Regions from separate parts of the Homo sapiens genome. Here region 2 is linked to region 1. The links come from fine-mapping of genetic effects on gene expression. A gene starts in region 1. The other region holds a variant in brackets. All regions are shown on one strand. Distances are between the middles of the regions. Region 1 holds the start of SYT6 (synaptotagmin 6). Region 2 overlaps SYT6 (synaptotagmin 6).

The links. PIP is the estimated chance that this variant, and not a neighbour inherited with it, causes the effect.
Region 2: its variant is the best candidate, but not a certain one, in a credible set for the expression of SYT6 in skeletal muscle (GTEx, PIP 0.55).

Annotation. Positions count from the first base shown.
Region 1 is chr1:114,150,466-114,155,834 of GRCh38, reverse strand. It overlaps SYT6 (synaptotagmin 6), which reads left to right and starts at 1,966. Exons shown (of 8, transcript NM_001253772.2): 1 at 1,966-2,225. The coding sequence starts at 2,063. RefSeq lists an enhancer at 178-791.
Region 2 is chr1:114,101,484-114,106,852 of GRCh38, reverse strand. It overlaps SYT6 (synaptotagmin 6), which reads left to right. Exons shown (of 8, transcript NM_001253772.2): 4 at 3,132-3,252. Among named protein-coding and RNA genes, the nearest start is that of SYT6, 50 kb to the left of the region's middle. RefSeq lists an enhancer at 1,311-1,958. The variant C/T (reference allele first, on the strand shown) is at 2,565.

The sequences.
Region 1 (5,369 bases):
CCCCACTCGATGTAAGCAAAATATTGATTTCCCTGCATCACAGGTCTGGGCCCTTGGAATGGTCCTGTGTTTTTTCATTCTCTGCAAAGGCAAAACAAGGTGCTTTGTTCTGTGAATTTCCCCCAGGAACTCGCGAGGGGGAGGGAGAAATAGCAGGGGAGTGACAGAGTTGCCATAAACACGGGCAAAGAGCAGTTCTCCATTTGTATTTTACATAAACACAAACCTGCCACTTGGGAAACTGCTAATAAGCGTTTAGCCAGAGGCTCTTCTGGGTGCTGAGATCTGCATCGGGTGATGGAAAAGAAATTAATGGGGCCTCTAGGCTCCTCAGGTGGGTTTTCAGAAGCACCAGGAAGGCGCATAGGGATGCCAGAGCCCCACTTGTTCTTGGAACAGCAACCAAACACCTCCAGCAGGAAGGCAGCCCGGATTGCACAGTATCGCCTGCGTCGTGTCTGCTTGGTCCCTGCCTGAGTTCCTAGCCTTCTGCTATCACAGGCACAGGGGTCAGGGTGGAAGCTGCGAACCTTCAACAATTGCCTCTCCCTCGTCCCCTAAACTTATGCCCACGCGATGGTAGCACCAACTGGGTCTTCAGCACCGTGGACAGAGCCAGGGGGCGCCTCACGGTGGAAAAGCCGCCTGGCTGGGCCAGGGTCCTCACAGGCCTTGCCTTAGCCCTTGGTGCCCCAGGCACCAGCTGCTAGGGGATCGCAAGTCCAAGGGCCGGTTGGCACAGATGGCGCGCAGTGGAGACCGCCAGGAGCTAAGGCTCCGAATCTCCTCCCTCCGGAACGTGAGTCACTGCCCGAGTCACTTCCAATAAGCGTGTTAATTAAGAGGCAAGACCTTTCTCCCTCGCCAGCCACTCGGGCATACACCAACCCAGCAGCCTCCAGGGGCTGCAGCTAAAGCTTCCTTCCCAGCTCCGGGAGAGCAAATGGACCTGAGTCTGGGGCTTCAGGCGAGCCCCACACAGAAGGGGCCCCACCGCCGACAGGTGTAGATCAAGAGACTCCCGAGATAGGCCCCTGCAGGGCGCTGGTCCCCCGGCCTCCCTGACCATGGCTCACAGACTTCCAGCGCTGAGTGAGGCAGCTCGAAGCCTCTCAGCCGATCTGTTCCTGGGCCTCACTCCACAGTTTCTGAGGGGATCTCTACTTTAAGTCTAGCCTCAATCCTCCCGTTGAGCTTTCTGTCTTTCTTGTTATGCTTAGCAGAAAGATACATGATCTCTGGTGCTGTTTCACCGAAGCAAGGAGGTGGGTCGGCGGAACTGAGCGCCCTGCGCCCTCTTGAAATGACCCCCCATTCCTGTTTGCCAGAAACTTTTCCCTCCCGTTGCCATGGAGAGAGACGGCCGCTGCCTCCCGTCGCCATAGCAACATGCGGGTACCGCGGACCGCAGGATTGCGGAGCTCGGAAAGTCTTGCAGTTCGCATCGCCCGCCTGTCTTGGGGTCTTCTACCTCCGAAGCTGGGACTCGGGGGCCAGTCTAACTGCTCCCGTCAGGAACCTCGGCCAAGGTCCTCCCAGACCCTGCCTGACCGTCGCTCTTTCTGTTACGGGGTTATCTATTTCTCTGTCATTCGTGTGGCATGTGGCAGTTTACCCAGTGTTTTCACAAACACGATCTTTCTATCCCCAGGGAGTCCGTGAAGTACTTAAAATCATTACACCTCCTTTACGGAGAGGAAAATTGAGGCTCAGAGACGCCCAAGGTCACACCAGGCAGTGAATGCGGAGTGGGAACCCGGACTCTTTCCTGGCCTTGCACCCTCCGAGATTCGGGACAGCCCGGCTTCCCGCCTCGAAACCCCCACCCCCCGGACTCAGGCCAGTCCCTGAGTGTAGAGGGGGCGGCCGCGAGGCGCCAGACTCGCCAGCTGCCGCGGGATGCCACGTGAGGGGCGGGGACCCTGCGGGGAAGTGATTAAAAGCAGAGCGGAGCCGCAGGGGGCCGCTGCAGGGAGGGTCTTCTTGGGGCCGTCGTGCCCCGCCCCAGTGCGGCCGGGGCGCGGGTTCGAGCTGCTGCTCGGCAAGCCTGGGTGTCTAGGGCATGAGCGGAGTGTGGGGGGCCGGCGGGCCTCGGTGCCAGGAGGCGCTCGCGGTCCTCGCCTCGCTGTGCCGGGCCCGGCCGCCCCCTCTCGGGCTGGACGTGGAGACTTGTCGGAGCTTCGAGCTGCAGCCCCCAGAGCGGAGTCCCAGCGCGGCAGGCGCAGGTAACGGGAGACCCAGGGCCCCCTCCCTTCCTGGATATCCGTCCTGCGATCTCCCTTCCCCAAAGCCCCGGTCCCAGGAGCCCCAGAACCTAGAGAGAACTCCCCAGCTCGGGATTCTGGATTGGGAGCCAGCCTCGTCCAGCCCTCTGGCCCATCGCTTGCACAGCCAGGAGAGACCCGAAGGGGAGCGGAGGTTGGGGTAGAAGCCCCCGGCCCTCCTGTATTACTACTGCGGAATGCGGGGGACCCCGCAGACAGCCAGGCTCCCAGGACGGGGCACCCTTGGGGCTTCAGTTTCCCTCGCATCTCCAAGCTCGCTCTGCGGGCGATTTGCCAGGAGAGGGGTCCATGGAGAGAGCGGGAGACGAGGGGCGCCCGGCTGAGGAATAGGGCTTGCCTCCTAGCGAGTGTCGAGGTCCCCGGGTCCGTGCGTCGGTCTGTCCGTCCGTTTGTGTGTTCTCGCGGTGAACGCGGGCGGACCCCCAGTCTCTCCGGGAGAAACTTGGGTCTGCGGCTGGCACGAGGTCTTTGTGTCCGGGTGTCTCTCCGGCTGCGAGTGGTTTTCCGCGTCTCCGCTGGGGGGCGGGGGACAGGGGGCGGGGTGGGGGAGGGTATGAGGGTGTTGCGGCGTCCTTCCCCCACCCCCTCTCGCCCCTATAACTCGCTCCCTCCGTCCCTCTCGGACTCGGACTCGGGGCCGGTGCGCGACTGAGCTGGCGCCTCTAGCCGACTTTGCCAAGAGGGCGCCTCCTGCCCGATCCGCGCTGACCCTGCGCGGGACGCAGCCCCAGGCGGCTGCCTAGCCGAGGCGGGAGCCCGAGCTGAGTCGAGCTCGCCGGAGCGGGTGAGTCCCGAGCCCGATCCCCGCCGGGCTGGACCCTGGCGCGCAGCTGCGGCGTCTCCGGGGAGTCGCGGCAGGGGGAATGGCGTGTCGCGCCCTGGCGGCGGGAGCTGCGGGAGGGTCGGCGACGTGGCGGCCGGCCCAGGGTATTTACCTGCTGCACCAGTGCCCGGCAGCCACGCTCGCCGGCTGCCGCGGGGCTTCTTTGTCCCGATATCTGGAGGGTCCGGGGCGGGAGGGAGTACTGGGTCGCGTCCCCTCCATGGGGGAGGGGCTGGGGGAGTGAGAGGCCTGGAGATAATGCGGAGTGGGGGTGGGGAGATCCTGCAAGGACCAGGACGCCGGGGTTCCAGGAGACTCTGCAGGCTCCATCCCTCCTTATTCCCCCACCCCGACCCCAGTAGCGCTGGGCCTAGGAGCACTCGGGAGTTGCTCAGTGGCTCTGCACCGCTGGCGCGGGAAGGGGAGAAAGGGGCTGCCAGAGGCGGGAATTTGGTCCCCACGCGCTGCTCCAGGGACGAGAAGCCAGGGACCGGCGGTTCTGGGAGCAGGTACAGGTGGGGTAAACTCCCCAGCGGCTGCAGGTCCCAGGGTCCTGTTTTCTTTCACTTGAGGTTAAAGGTCGTATATAGAGGTAGATACCCGTGAGGAGCAGTTCGGGGGAGGGGGCGGTGGGCCAAGGGGAGGCTTGTGTGTGTGAGGGGGCTGTATCCAGCCTTGGGGTGAGCGGAGCCCACCTGAGCCCTGTGAGGGTCGTAGGAGGCGCTGCTGTCCCTAGTTGTGGCAATGTTTAGTCAATGGTTTGATCACTGCAGCAGAAGGGACTGAGGTTAGACATAAAGAACTTTTAGAGGGTGGTACAGAGATGGAGGTTGGGGAAGTTGATTCCCTGCCTTGGAGATTCGCAGAACACATTAGGCCTAACAAGTTATTATTATAAGACTCTGGTTCTCTGGTGCCATCCCCTCCTACACCACGCATACACACCAGACACAGAATTTTCCCTATCAGGGAGCCTCTTCCTGCCTCTCCCTACTCCCCAGCTCCCTTCCGTCTTTTCCACCAATGATCCATCTCCAGTGGAGCCTTAATGCTGGTCCTGACCCTCAGAGCCTAGAGGGTGAGAACATACCTGTGGAGTTCCATCTGGGATGGAAGCTGACTCTCCTGTCTGTTCAGGGCAGAAATGCTGGGGGTGACGGTGGAAGTTGCTGGAAGTGGGGCAGGGCTGTATGTGTGCAGCACATCTTGGTAGGGGGAGGCACAGGTGTTCTGACTCCACAGAGATACCCATAATCTGGAATGACAGGTGCCTGGATGGCCAGGTTGAGGGTGAGAAAAGCCTGAGGGGTGAGAGTCGGCAGGCCCAGATGAATTACTATGCCTTCCCTGCAGGCTGCATCAGAAGATGAGTTCTAGTTGTTAGCTCAGGAAAACTTTAACTTTGGCTGCTGAGTCACAAGTCCCAGGAAGCCCAGGGTCCAAGCTGAGAGGCTGAAAGGGATATGGGGAGGCAGGAGCAGACCCTTTGATCATAGCAAGAGAAAGATAGTGGTTGAGAGTGGCCTTGGGATTTTGAGAATTTAGGTGACCAGAGGGTCTGGGGAGATGCCATGGAGTTCAGGACCAGGCCCCAGCTGTTCCGCCTCCCAGCCTGCTCTCTGGGTCCAGATTCTCCAACCAGCACAATGCTAGAGCTTTTCATTTGTTGCAGTTTTATGAAAAATGCAAGTGGCTAGAGCAGGCCCAGCTCTGTTTACCATTTTATGTTTTCCCTTGACTTCTTCCTGTTCTAAGTCTCTAGCTTACAGATTTCTAGTAACACCCTGAGACTGAGATTCAGACTCCACTGTCATTTGCTGAGACTCCTCTATAGGCTAGAGTCTGTGCTAGGAATTGCACAGGAAGTCTCAGTTAATCAGACCCTGACTTGGAAACACCTGTACACAAACTGTCCAAACTAAAAGCAAGTTTCCCCTTTTTCTTTAAAAACTCTGAAGCCATAGGCCTGCTATTCTCCTTAATACACCCCAAGTGAACACTAATAAGCAGTTCTCCACCTTTCATTGTGTCATTTGCCTTGTAGAAATGAATGAACTTTTTCCATAAGCCAAGCTGCAGAGGTTTAGGTATGGTCAGCATGGGTTCTGGACTTAAGGTAGCAAGCAGAGGTCCAGAAGTGCTCCAGCAAATGCAGAAACCTGACAGGAGACCTCAAGCTTCCCTGTTTTTCTTAGGCTGGCAGCCGGGAGTGGTTAACTCCAGTTTACTTGTGGCCATGAAATTTATGTGATGTTTGTCCT
Region 2 (5,369 bases), 49 kb after region 1:
ATGCTGGGGGGCACAGCTGCAGGGCAAAGGGGACTTGGTGACTCCTGTGAGCTGTTCGAGGACAGGAAGCCCTGCAGGGGTGTTCGGGAGAGATGCTTACTGTGGGCTGGACCCTGGGCAAGGGTCCATGGGGGTGTGGTGTGGGGGCATGATGTAGGTATAGGAGTATCCAAGCAAAGAGGAGAAGGGGAGGCATTTTGACAAGAAGGACCAACAATATACCAGCCATGTGGAGCAGAGGGTTGGCACAGAGAAGGGAGAGAGCAGCAGGTGAGGAGGTAGGACAGGGCCCAGTTGCTGAAAGCCCCAAGTGCAAGCTAAGAAGATGAGCCTTGATCCCAGAAGCCAAACAAGGGGAACCACTGAAGGGGTTTGAGCAGTGGCAAGGATATATGAAAATCTGGCACCAAAGCACTCACTAGTCACACAGCCTTGGGCCAGTTATTTAACTTCACCAAACACTAATTTTCTCCTGTGTGCAATAGGGATGATGAGAGAGAGAGCACCTACCTCGCAGGGCTGAGGTAAGACTCACCGAGATAATCTAGCAAAGTACTTAGCAGAGGCCTGGCACACAGTCCATGTGCAATGGGTTGGTTCCTAGTACTGTGCTCACTGAATCTAAAGAGTTTCAGTAACTTGGGGCTTGAAGGGTTATTAAGGGAAATAAAGGGGCTTCTCTTTACACCTCAGTGCCTATGTGAGACATGGAATATTTAGCCAGATGTGATGCTGATCTGCCCCCTGCCGCAGGACCCATGCCAGGGCACAGGGCACTTGCTATGTGTCTCTCTCTTGACTAGGGGACTAGGGAGCCAGGAGATGCACCTGAGTGAGATGGGGACTCCAGCACCTTCTTTTAACTGGTTACGCCCCGCTAGACCATCTGCATGTCGAGGGTGGGGACTGCATACTCTCCACAAAGCATGGTGCCTCTGGCAGGCACTCTGTAAATACGAATGGAAACAAAAATGAACAAGTGGATGGAATGTAAGCCAAGGTGCAGAAGGGTGAGGGTTCCCTTGAGCAGCTTCCTAGATGAGCTGGAAGGGCATTGCTCAAAAGCGGAGTGCAAGGACCACTCTCTCGAGAGTCACGAGTCCAAGCAGCTGGCAAGGCTTGTAAACCTGAGCAAGTTATTCGTCCGTGAAATGGAGGGGAAAATGCCAACAAGCCTGCCTCGCAGAGTTGCTGAGAGCCTCACAGCTGGAAGTGATCTTCATGGAGGCGCTTCACAGGGGCTGGTGTGGGATGGCTGGCTCTGCGGAGGCCACGTGGTTCTGTGTGCAGGAGGGGTGGCTGTCTCCACAGTGTGCCCCGCCCTGGCCCCAGCCAGGCCCTTCCTGGGAAGCTGGGGGTATTCACCTTCTGCTGTTCCTAGAATTTGATTTGGGGGGTGACTTTTTTCGGGGGCCTGGACAAAAAGACAAATCTAGGGCTAGGAAAAGAGGGTGAGGGTGTCAGGGCTGCCTAGAGGAGAGTGCGGTGAGCGCAGGCTCTGGAGGTAGGGGGAGACAGGGCCTTGGCTTATTCTCCAGGGGGGGAACAGGGCTGTAGGAGTCTCCAGGAGAGGGTGGCTCTTTGCAAGGAGAATGGACAAAAACCCTGGTGTCACCCTCGACTCTTCTCTCTCCCAGAAGTCATTATCTCCTTAGAGAGGTCTTCTCTAGCTAAACATTCAACAACTGTAGCCTCCTGCTGGTCATTTTATATTCCACTTCTCTGCCTTTTGTTCTCCTTGATACTTTTGACTATCTAACTTATATACTTACCTCCTTTATTGTCCTTTGCCCTAATAAAATGTAAGCTCCACTCGTAAAGATGGCAACAATAGACACTGGGGACTACTAGAGTCGGGAGGGAGGGAGGGGGCAAGGTTTGAAAAGCTAACTGTTGGGTGCTATGCTCACTACCTGGGTGGCAGGATCATCTGTACCCCAAACCTCAGCATCATGCAATATACCCATGTTACAAACCTCTATATGTACCCTCTGAATCTGAACCTAAAATAAAAGGTGGAATTTTTTTTAAGTTGAAATTTATTTTTTAAGTTCCATGAAAACAGGGATTTTTGTCTGTTTTGTTCTCTCCTATATCCTTAGCACTCAGATCAACACTTAGCACATAACAGGTGCTCAATAAATAGTTGTTAACTGACTGAATTACTGAATGGATGGATGGATGGAGGGCCTCATCTGAAATCACCCTAAACGCTGACCTCTTCCTCCTCAAACCTGACTCTGGAAGCCCTATGGGAGGAAATGTCTCCATATCTTGGAGTCCCTCCTCAAACCTGTGGGAGGAGGCTTCACCGTGACAGCGCCCTCCTTCATCAAATGGAGGAAGCAACCTGGCAAGGCACTGTTTAATGCCACAGATGGGTGTGCTTACTGTCTTTGAGGTTTTCCTGTTCTCTCAGAAACTCCCAGGAATCCCTGGCCATGACAATTCTGGGGTTAGGAGAGGCAGCAGAGCGTGTGCTCTGTGCTGGGTTTATTTTTAAAGGATGACCACATTTAAGGAGAAAAGAGAAAGTGGACCTGAGGCCTGGCATCAAACACTTG[C/T]CATCAGATGGGATGGAAAGTGTTTGTCTCCTTGGTTGGCTGTGATTGACAAAGAACAACTGCACTGAGGGGCAGAAGAAGAAAAGAATCATGGACCTGCTGGGAGAGGGGACAGCTGAAGTCTAGAGCATGTGTCTTGTCCAGGACACTGTCATGACCACATGCCTGGATGGGCAGGAAGTCAAGGGGGTCAGTGACTGAGAAGGGTGGGCTGGAGGAGAACAGGAAGAGGCCACAAAGGGGCTGGTGGTTTGAGGCTGCAGCCAAGGGGCGCATGGAGATCAAGTCAGGCCAAAAGCAGAACAGCAAGGACCAGGGTCAGAATGTGGTTGACATTGAGAGGGAATATTGGAAGGGGCAAATTGTACTGAAGAGGCAATATTGTTTCCATTGCCTTTTATACCCTGTTACTTGCAGCATGGAGGCCAGTCCCTTAGTCTTAAAAACACAGCACAGTGTCTCCAAGAGCCTCCTCCTGACCCCAGAGCGCCCCAGCAGATACTGCACTGGACATGAGGCCCATGGTCTGCAAGCCCCTCATCTGCCCTCTTGTGTGCTTCTTTGCAGGAAAGCGTGGACTTGGGAGAGATCATGTTCTCCCTTTGCTACCTGCCCACTGCAGGCAGGCTCACCCTCACAGTGATTAAGTGTCGGAACCTCAAGGCGATGGACATCACAGGCTATTCAGGTACCTCTCTTAACCCAAGTGGCCTGCCAGCAGCCCAGACATTAGGATTTGGAAGGGTGTTCGGGGAGAAGGAGAAAGAATTGTCAGCATTCTTAGAATAGAAGCACCAGCTCTGGACACAAACTGCCTGGATTCGAATTCCAGTTCTGCCACTTCTTTGCTGTGTAAATGATTTGGTTTTCTAGTCTGAAAAGTGGGAGTAATAATATCTTACATGGGTTGCTTTCAGGAGAAATGAGTTAATTCATGTAAATGTTCAGAATGGTGCCTTACACATATAAGCACTCAGTAGATATCATCTGTTGCTGTCATTCTTTCTCTTAGAAGAGGGAGATAACAAGAAGTAAATATATAGGATTTAAAAATTAAGGATAAGTTTTCTTATTTATGTGAGGCCCCAGGGTTATGTCGTTTGAGTGTGTAAATGTTTGCCGGTCTATGCAGGCTTATGGCAGCAATTCTGTGCACTGAGCCAAGGAAACAAATCCACTGAAAAGCAAAATGCATTTGTATTTGAGGCTTTGCTGCAGGCCTCCTGGCCTCAGCCTCAGCACCAAGAGAGCTGCTAGGTACAGCAGGAACATAGAAATATAGTCTTATTCTAGCGACAGAGGAAATGCTTGTTTGGGGGCAGCTGCACAGAGACCTGCAGGATGGACGTAGTGTCAGAGGTTTGAGTCTTTCCCCACAATTCTGCAAGTTGTGGAAGGAGGTATTTGAGTTTGGAAATAACAGAGGAGTAGCTTGAGTCTTGGGAGCCTCCTTCCCTCATCAGCTCAGACTGCTCTGAGGAGTGAAATGGGGTGAAGCCTCTTGGTCTGGGCTGCACTCAGAATTGCAAATGTGGAAAAAAGCTCAGTTTGTTTCCCTAGATCCCCTGTCCTCCTGCTCAAGAGACTCTCGATGATTCAGATTACCAACGTAAAACCACTCAGGAGGTGCTTCTGAACTTAGCTGGGAATATATTAAAGATTTTTCCTCATATTTGCTTTGTATTCTTTATTTATTTGCTGGAAACCCCCTAAGTTGTGGAAGAAGGTATTTGAGTTTGGAAATAACAGAGGAGTAGCTTGAGTCTTGGGTATAATCAGTTGCTGGAAAGAGGTGATGGCCCAGCCGAAAACACCTGGGCTCAGGTGTAACCTGGTGCAACTGGAAGAAGAGGAGGTATCAGGCCTTGAAAACTGAAGTTTCAGGACAAGGTGCTCAGGAAACCCTAGAGTAACATGTGTTTGTTGCAGCTCTGAGTCCCTCAGAGCTACCCACACACATCAGGATGTGGGGAAGAGATTAACGGACCTCTTCTGGCCTGGGAAAAGCTTAGGCAGCAGCAAGTCAGCTTCCCCTAAAATACAGCCAATGTAGATTTCATTTTAATACCAAAATAAGTGCATAACAGGGAAGAAAATTCACTGAAGACTCTCAAGGCTGCTGAGGGAAATAGGATTTTGCTGCCTAAGTCCCCACACTATCTTCTCTGGTGTAATTAAATTGATGTGCTGGAGAGAAAGCCTATGGTGAAGCTGCTGAGGTCATCACAAAAGCTGCTCTGAATCAGAGGGTTTGGGGTGTGAGATTTTGTTCTTGCTAAGTTCTAACCTCCCTTTCACAATTGCCCCTCTTTTTGACCTGGGTTTGGAACCTGTTATTAAACCTTGGCTTGATTCCGAAGATCCAGGGGTCTTCTTTTCATTACAAGTTTCTGTCTATTTTGTTCATTGATGTAAGCAAGTATCTGGAACAGTGGATAAAACACAGTAAGCATTCAATAAATAGATACCGAATGAATGGATGGTTGAATTTACAGCATGAGGAACCTGGCCCAAGGGTGAAGCAGTGGGGGTGTACTTGCTAGGAGCCTCTCGAACTAGATCTCCTGTTCTTGAGGATGAGTTTGAGGTTTCCCTCAGCCCAGACTTATTCGATGTTGGACTAAGCTAGGTATTGAATGGAGCTTATTAATTGCCTATTCTTGAATTGTGTGGCATTGATGTCTAAAACCCAGGATCTTCCTATTCTCAATGATCTAAACTAGCCCTGAATCAATTCTCTAAGCCTATCTGCTAGAACCATGACACTAAAAATAGCACAAAATAATAATAAGGACCAGTATGCTA